Regions from separate parts of the Homo sapiens genome. Here region 2 is linked to region 1. Evidence: fine-mapped expression QTL. A gene starts in region 1. The other region holds a variant in brackets. All regions are shown on one strand. Distances are from middle to middle. Region 1 holds the start of MARCHF6 (membrane associated ring-CH-type finger 6). Region 2 overlaps MARCHF6 (membrane associated ring-CH-type finger 6).

Region 1 (4,392 bases):
TGAAATGTTGGGAGCTGTCAGTGGCCTTGTTTCCAGACATATGGAGGAAGCTGGTCTAACAGCATGAAGCCAATGTGCAGAGAGAGTTGCAGAGCTGAGCCATAGGGGCAGAGGCATTCTCGTTCTAGTAGTCCCAGCAGTCCCTCCCCTTCTTGGAGTCTGTCCATATCAACAGTACATTCCTCCCTTCTGCCTAACAGTTGAGTTCCTGTCAATGGCAACCAAGAGAGGTGTGACTGATTCATGTATTCAAAGGGCTGTTGTGAGAACTTGTGCCTGACTCACAGTGGGGACTCAACAAATGTTGGTTTATTACTCTTATATTTAACGCCTAAAGTCTGAATGCGAAAAGGTTAGGGCAATTCCAGAAGGAATTACTATGCAGAAGGGAAAACTGGTTGACAGGTTAACTTTCCTTTGAACATCACAAGGGAAGGCACCTAAATACAAAAGGAAGGCTTCCTCCACGCCCCCCATACACACACATTCCCTTCATCCTAACCTGGCTCTGCAGCTCCGAGGGTCACATACCTGCCCTTGGCACTACTAGTACTTCCTCCAGCAAGTCTCAGTCTTTCTTTCAGAATCCTTCGCCCTTATGCCATGTAACATCTGATCGGCCCGGTCTTTGCCCCTAGTATCAGCAGGCCAATACGTGCTCTGCTACAGGTCTTACAGGGAGGGTGAGCTCTTGGAGTTGGATCAGAAGGAGAGGGGCTGGGGAAAGATCGTCTTCAAATTGTTTCTTTGGCGGTAGTATATATAAACATATTTAGGCAGGGCATAGTGGCACATGTCTGTAACCCCAGCACTTTGGGAGGCCGAAGCGTGAGGATCGCTTAAAGACAGGAGTTGAAAATCATACTGGTCAATATAGTGAGATTGCAGTGAGCCATTATCGCGCCACTGCATTCCTGCCTGGGTGACAGTGCGAGACCCCTTCTCAAAAAAAAAAAAAAAAAAAGAAAGAAAAAAATCATAAGCAAACAACAACAAAAAAACAAATATAAAGAATGGCGGTCTGCTTAATTCTCCGTGCCAGCCCTTGAAATCAGTGGGTATTATTATGTAGAGTTTGAGTTCTTTCCTCCCTTGAGTAACATGAGTGACATCAGTAACATTAGTCAAGCGCTGCTCTTTTTGAAAGACTGTATTTCATTATTTTTATTCTAAACCTTACTCTGTTTGATGAAGATTGGGGGAAGAGCCCTCCCAATTCCACCGCTCACACATAACAGCGGTTGCTAGCATTCTTTATTTGTGCTAGGTCATCTGCATATTGTTTAAACATTTTTCGAGGCTGGAAAGACTGCTCCCACTCAGGCAATTCTGACGTGGCGGCCCTTCTAATTTATATTCTCTAAATAATTCTTCATTTAGAGAAAACAGTCAGGGATTACAGTGAGGGAGGGTGACGTGCTGACGGGGACAGAGCTTGGCTTTTGATCATTCTCCCCTTAGCTCTGCCCAGGCAAGCGTCCCTAACTCAGGGTATCGGAACCGATCTCCCTTAGAGGATTATGTTTCAACCACCAGCCTCAGCGGTTTACTCAAATGTCCTTCCAGCCAAATGCAGAAGTCTCCCTGGGAGTAATTTTGGTGAAGTCAGCTTTTGCCTTTTTCATCACAGGCAGGCTTTAGTAGTTCCTCAAAACGTGCACCACAACTGCCCGGCTGCCAAACAGAAATGCTGATGCCTGGGCCCACTCTAGCCATTTGGCCTCGGCATCACGGTGCGGGAGCGTGGGGCGCAGACTCGCATTGTCACAGGAACCTCCCGGCCTTCCGAAGAGCCCCGCGCCGGGGCCTTTGTCTCGCACGTCGGCTGGGGCGGGAGCTAGGTTCTCGCAGCCTCCTCCCACCGCTCTGCGCCTTCTTTGTCCCTCCAGAAGCCGCCATCAAAGCTCAGCTCCTGATTAGGTTTCGGCCCCGCTGGCCGGCGCAGTCTCGGCGACTACCCCAGGCGGCCTGGCGCACGCGAGGATTCGCCGCGCCCCAGATGCAGGTGCCTCCCCTCCTTAGCCGCCGACCGACAGTGCACGCCGCGGCCGCCGGAAGTGACAGCGCCTGTCGTTGGGGAGCTCCCGCCCCTTCCGCCTCGGCGCCCCGCCCAGGCCTCGCCCCTAGGTGTTCCCGCCCCTCCCCCTCCCGTGTCGCTCGCTTTCTGTCAGCCTCTCTCCCTCTCCCTCTCCCCTCTCCTTCCTCTCGCTTCCTCTCTCGCACCTGAGCGTACGCACCTGCCCGGGCCCGGCTCCCTCCTCCTCTCCCCTCCCTCTTTCCCCGCCCGGCCGCGGGAGCCTCGTGGCTGCGTCACCGCCGCCCCCCCAGACAAGATGGACACCGCGGAGGAAGGTAAGTCGGCGACGCGCGGCGCCCGAGCCCTTGCGTCGGCGCCCGGGTTCGTACCCCGGCCAGGTCCGCGGCGCTCGAGGTGGGCTGCTGGATCGCGGCGGGGCGGACGCCTGGGCCGTTTGTCCACCCGCTGGGCCTCTGGGCCGGGGAGCGGAAGGTGACCCTCTGCGCGCCCCCCGCCGTTTCCCGCCCGCGCCGCCGAGGGGGGCGGGGACCCTGCCGGGCAGGGGCCGGGGCCGGGGTCGGGGCCTCGGGGCTACTGCAGGCCGGCGTGGCCTCCCTTGTCCCCGCCGTCGCGCGCTGGCCCAGAAAAGGGGGCCTCTGTCGCTGCCGTCCGGGGGCGTTTTCCGCACCCTTCCCCCACTGGGTTTTGTCTTTCTTTACGTCCTTCTGCCTATTGCTCGCCAGGCCCTACCCCCTCGCGACAGAACTTCTTTGTTGACTTTGAAACTTCGCGAAAAATACCCCGCCAGATGACGGCCGAGTGGAGTGAGCTGACCCCTGTTGAAAAGCCTGGTCCTCGGCTTGCCTGCCGCTCGAGAATCTGTTTACTAAACGGGGAGGCTCTTTTGTTGCGATCCATTTGGTTTTAAATCCTTGACACCTATAAGCAGGGTTCTGTTTGTTTTGTTTTGCGATTGCTTGTGTTTTGGATACGGTTACATTGAACAAACTGACCCTTGTAAAATGAATACTTAAGATATAAACGTCCACACCTTATGTCTCTTCAAACGCATTTTCTTACCCACTGAAGGTAGTAGATTATTTTTAACCAGCTGTGTTTTTAAATGAGTGGTGAGTTTATAGAGGAAATTACTAAATTTTGCTTTTTTTGATGTTCCGGTTATCGTGCAAATGCTTTTCTACTTTAGGTATATTTATGGGGGTATGAGCGTCTTTCAACCTTATGGGTTGCGATTTTGGCGATTTTAAACGAAAATGAATTATCAAACGCCGTCATGGAGTGCAATAATGAGTGAAAAAAGTTTGATATTATCTATGTAATGAGTTGATAACGACTTATTTTTTTTTAAAGAAGTCTTGCCTTTAATAAATACCTCAACTATAACATGTGGCACTTGATGTACATTCGCGTTCCATCTTCGTAAAAAGCCTGTGGAATAGGTAGGTATTATCTTTTATAGATGTGGAAATGTAGGCTTCGTTATTTTAATAGCTTGTCGAAGCTTTACACAGGTAGTAAGAGGCAGATTTGAACCTAGGCATTCTGATTGCAAGTAATTTCCCTTTCATTATGCCACAGTGTGTTTATTATATACACTGAGTGTAGCTAATCGCCACTGGAGACGCCTTTGGAAAAAATAGTAAAGCGAAACTGCTGAAGGTTGCGAACTATTTCTTTTTGACAGGTGGTCCTTGCGTGTAAATTTCCATCTACATAGGTTTCACATCCTTTTAGATTCAGGTTTTAATGAGTAAATCTAGTAAGGCATGTATTTATCACAGGATAGGTACGGACGTATTACATTCAATTCTCATTCTTTTGGCCTGGGCATTGCTACTTGCATACTTTTATGGTGTGACAGTAATCTGTGGTAATTCAGGAATTGCGCTCGAAGCACGTATGGAATCATGAAATATTTTCACTGTACTTCTAGTGCTTAAATATATTTTTTCTCTTGTAAAATTATAATCAGGATAAGGTATACATAACATTTATTTATTGAACACTGTTGCCTGTTAAAATAACATGTGCTGAAGACTCAACGTGTAGTATGTGCTTTACTAAACACTTTATATACATTTCATTTAATTCTCTCACATCGTTAGGTAGTCGGCATTTTCATTTTACAGATGAGGAAACTGATGGTTAGTATGATTAAGTAACTTGTCCAGGATAATACAGGTAGTAAATGGCAGAGGCAAGATTCAGACTCATGTCTGTCAGAGTCGCACTTAAATTAGATTATTTATTTATGAGTGTATACTACAAGTCCAATGTTGAAATTTATTTTTGTCACTCCCTCTATAGGATGAATCATTTATATAATTTGGTGGAAACTTTATTTTGCTTTATTT
Region 2 (4,392 bases), 73 kb after region 1:
AAGACATAACAGTTCTGCAGCAGTAAAGTACACCTCTTTTTGCTGTATGAGAAGTAAAGACAGTAGTTAGCCAAGCATGCTCAAGAAAATCTGTTCAAAAAGTGCCTGTATTTCAAGATTTTGATTCTTAGGAGTAGGGGGGTTAGGGAGCCAGCAAATTGCAGTGTGTTTGTGTGTGTCTCTAAAGTATGGGCTAATTCTGAAGTCCACCAGGAGTGTGATGGATTGGGGGCTTCTGGCTTCATATCCCTTCAGGATCAGAGTGCAGGCCAGTACACTCTAGAATGGCCAGGTTAGCCTCTGGCCCTTGAAAAAGGAGCATGGAGATGGGATTTATTCATACTGGAGGCTGTGGAACATCATTGATCTTCTAAATAATTTGTTATCTTATTCATTGTTTTCTCTTGCGTATGTGCGTGTGTGTCTCTGTAAATTTAAGAAAAATGGTTGGAAATGGTTGAGAAACACTGGGATGCCTTGCTTCATTGATTAAAATGCATTTGGGTTAACTAGGTGTCTTTGGGAATGGCAGCATGCCTTTAAAAGGTTAAGCATGTTTGCCATTCAAATTCCGAGGTGATGGGGTTGAGTTATGCTACATTCAGTCACAGCTAAGAGAGGTTTAAGTGCTGCTGGTGAGGCAAGAGGAGAAGAAAATAACAGCCTTCTAAGCCTTGTTTCTGTCTGCACTCCATCTAAATTTTCTGTTCCCAGGGTTTTCCCATTTCCATCCATTCTTTCCTCTGCATTACTCTTGTAGAATTTTCTGGATAAGATGATGGAAATATTCTAGTAATTCTTGGACTTGCTTTTTTTATATTCACTATAGAATTCTTTCATACTAAATTTTTAAATACCTTTTGATTTGTTAAAATTTGATTTATGCAAGCTTTTCAGAAACGCTTCCTGCTTCAGTGTTTTCTCATCATACTCAGATAAAATGAATGCAATATTGTATAATAACACAATATTACATATTACGTATCTCTTTCATAAGATGTATGAAGTTACTTCAAGTAATGTGGTCTTGAATGAATACCACTGAATGTCATCTGGTATTGTATAGTGCAAGTAGAGTATAAATTATTCTAGATTAGTGTCTTATTTCATCACTTAGCAGAGCTAACTGCAGAGCGTTAGTGGGTAAATACATTTCTTCAGAAACTCGTGGGCACTATGCTTATGTTGATATACCAGAATTTGCCTTGACTTTAGAAGAAGTAACCAGTTTGACTATTTTTGGGTTGGCAGATTCAGTTGTGTGGAGATTGCTGTATTAACTTGGAGGAATTTGTCTTGTATCTTTGTTCTAATTGCTTTTTGTAATGTTTCAGGTTTACGCAAATGGCATCCGGAACATTGACCTTCACTATATTGTTCGTAAACTGGCAGCTCCCGTGATCTCTGTGCTGTTGCTTTCCCTGTGTGTACCTTATGTCATAGCTTCTGGTGTTGTTCCTTTACTAGGTACGTAATGCTGGTTGTGGAGCCTTGAAGGAGCACTTTTATTAACATTGGACATTCTCTTTACCCCTAGTAAAAAGGATGTCTCACTCCATATGCTTTATTTGTAAATGTGAATCCAGCTAAGACAATGATTTCAAAATACCACTTTTCTTAGATTTGACTATTCTGGGTAAGATTAGAGGATCATAAAGCTCTTTGATACAGTTCTTTTCTCTACCAGAAGATAAAACTTGAAATTTACATGCTGTACAAAATAGGCAGGATCAGATTTCCTTCAGGTTGTCTTCTTCTGACTAGAAGTGCTGTGATCATATAAAATTAAGTAACAGTGTTGTTGTATTTAAGTTTTAAAGAAATATTCTTTGGCATAAAAGATCCAAAGAGGAGATGCTAATGGGCAACACGTTTATACTGAAATACACTGTCTTGTTGATTGTGTAGTGAAGACTCCTCATAGCTCCTTAAACCCAACATATTTTCAAAATTATAAGCAGAGACTTTTCCTTCCCAAATCTTTTTCTTCTCCAGAATTCCGTCTCTCAGCAGCAAACATTATCATCCAACAAATTGCATAAGTCAGAAACCTTGAAGGCTATCCATGTCACCTTATTCTGTCCTCCATGTCCCTCTGGTCTCCAAGTGTCCCATTCTTCCCTGAAGAATCTGGTCTCTCGTCTCTGGAGCCTTTGCTCCTGACTTTTGTTGAGTCATTCGTCTCCTACCCTAACTTTGGCACCTTCCTATCTGGTTTCCCAGCCTTGAACCTGCCATCACTAATTCCTTCTCCACACTGGGCACAATGACCTTTCAAAAGAATGAATCTCATTGTACCTCTTTGGTGAACATTTTTTTCATTGGTTCCTCTGTGGCCTTTAATGCAGTCCAACCTTTTGGCATAGTTTACAAGGCTCCTCCTTTTGCTTTGATGTGGGCTTCAGTTTGACCTCACTCCATGTCATATACTCTGAGTTTTGATTAAACAACCATGGAATGGCCTCTTATCAAACACACAATGTCCTCTCCATAACTGTCTCCACATTTTCATTTGTCTTATCCATCTGCCAGAAATGACCCCGTCCTCCCTTTAACCGTGAGAGAGGAGCTTAA[A/G]AAAAACACACAACCAAACTTGCAGTGTAACATGTATACTTGTATGTTACCTTACTAGGTCAAGAAATAGAACTTTTCCAGCCCTTTGGAAGCCCTTTGTGTGTGTGCCCTTCTTTACCTTTTGCCACTGGTTTGACTTCTAATAGTCTCATTGCTTCTTAGACAGTAAAGATATTAGCCATGTGCAGTAGCTACTTGGGAGGCTGAGGTGGGAGGTTGCTTGAAGCCAGGAATTGAAGACCAGTCTGAGCAACATGGCGAGACCCAACCTCTAAAAAAAATAAAAATAAATTATCTGGGAGTGGTGGCGCACACCTGTAATCTCAGCTGCCCTGCAGGCTGATGCAGGAGGATTGCTTGAACCCAGGAGTTCAGGGCTAACCTCAGGTTGTGACACTCCAATCTAGCCCAGGCAACAGGCCAAGACCCTGTCTCAAAAAAAAAAAATTGCTCAACACAGGTTTGTATAGAGAGAGGCTGAGCAATGTATCCCTCAGTCTGCAGGATGGCATGGGAAACAGGGAACAGTTAAGCTGAGGGCCCACAGTGTGCAAACTGCATCATTTCCTGGTTCCTTCTAAGTAGAAACTTCAAGGCTTTTATTTGGTTTGAATTGTGACTATGCCAAGTATCATAAATACCATATTAAAATGCAAATATATATTTCCTGCAAAATATATTTCAAAGCCCATTGCTTTTTAGTTTTTTTTTTTTTTTTTTTTTTTTTTGAGAGACGGAGTCTCGCTCTTTTGCCCAGGCTGGAGTACAGTGGTGCAGTCTCGGCTCGCTGCAACCTCCACCTCCTGGGTTCAAGCGATTTTCCTGCCTCAGCCTCTTGAGTAGCTGGGACTACTGGCATGCGCCACCATGCCCAGCTAATTTTTGTCTTTTTGTTAGAGACAGGGTTTCACCATGTTGGCCAGGCTGGTCTTGAACTTCTGACCTCAGATAATCCACCCCCCTCGGCCGCCCAGAGTGCTGGGATTACAGGCATGAGCTACCACACCCAGCGCATTGCTTATTAGTTGAATACGTCTTTAAAATTAAATTATTTTGACTCTTTAGAACAATCTCTTTACTGGTTTTGTCTAGAGTAGGAATGCCCTATTTTCTTTTTTATTCTAATTAGCATATATTATGTTCTGCCCATTAATAGTATATAGACTTAAGAATTTGGATTTCCAACCCAGTCATTCATGTTTTCATTTTTAAAAATTTTATTGTGAGCATTTCTGGAAAGACTTTGGAAGGGAAAAAGAGTGGCAAATGAAAAATGTTGGTACCTGTTTTGCCCTGTTTAGATGCTTTATGTAATTCTTACATGTTATTCTTAGGGTAGCTTTTTAATATGTTTTGTCAACTCTGTTTTAGAAATGGGAAATTGAGGTTCATAGAGATTGAGAATCTTACCCCAAAGTCTGGTTTTTAAGGAGTAAGAGCAGCATTCAGATTTCAAACTCAGCTCCAGAGCTTATGCACAGCACACTATTGTGGTGTTTGGAATAATCCACCTGACGGTATTAATTTTCTGAATTCCTCGAAAGTACTTGCTCTGATTTTAAAGCCCCCCAGTCCCCTCTGCCAAAGAAGTATTAAAACTCATGAGTTAAATATAGAAAAATAAATACATGTGTGTTCTAAAAGTTTGAGGATTTTTTTATTATATAAGCACAGTTTTGGTTTTGCTTCTTTAAACTGTGGTGCAGTAGAAATGTATCAATGACACCACTGCTTGTGGAACATGAGAAGTCATCTCGTCCAGTTCCTTTTTTTTTTTTTTTTTGAGGCAGGGTCTCACTCTGTTGTCCAGGTTGGAGT

What was found. PIP is the estimated chance that this variant, and not a neighbour inherited with it, causes the effect. A credible set is the group of variants that fine-mapping cannot tell apart.
Region 2: its variant is the best candidate, but not a certain one, in a credible set for the expression of MARCHF6 in whole blood (TOPMed, PIP 0.66).

Annotation. Positions count from the first base shown.
Region 1 is chr5:10,351,566-10,355,957 of GRCh38, forward strand. It overlaps MARCHF6 (membrane associated ring-CH-type finger 6), which reads left to right and starts at 2,130. Exons shown (of 26, transcript NM_005885.4): 1 at 2,130-2,352. The coding sequence starts at 2,334. It overlaps MARCHF6-DT (MARCHF6 divergent transcript), which reads right to left and starts at 2,492. Exons shown (of 3, transcript NR_183261.1): 1 at 2,407-2,492; 2 at 1-208. RefSeq lists enhancers at 1,689-1,948, 2,795-3,366 and silencers at 2,089-2,228, 2,269-2,738.
Region 2 is chr5:10,425,056-10,429,447 of GRCh38, forward strand. MARCHF6 (membrane associated ring-CH-type finger 6) reads left to right here. Exons shown (of 26, transcript NM_005885.4): 24 at 1,335-1,467. Among named protein-coding and RNA genes, the nearest start is that of ROPN1L-AS1, 15 kb to the right of the region's middle. The variant A/G (reference allele first, on the strand shown) is at 2,575.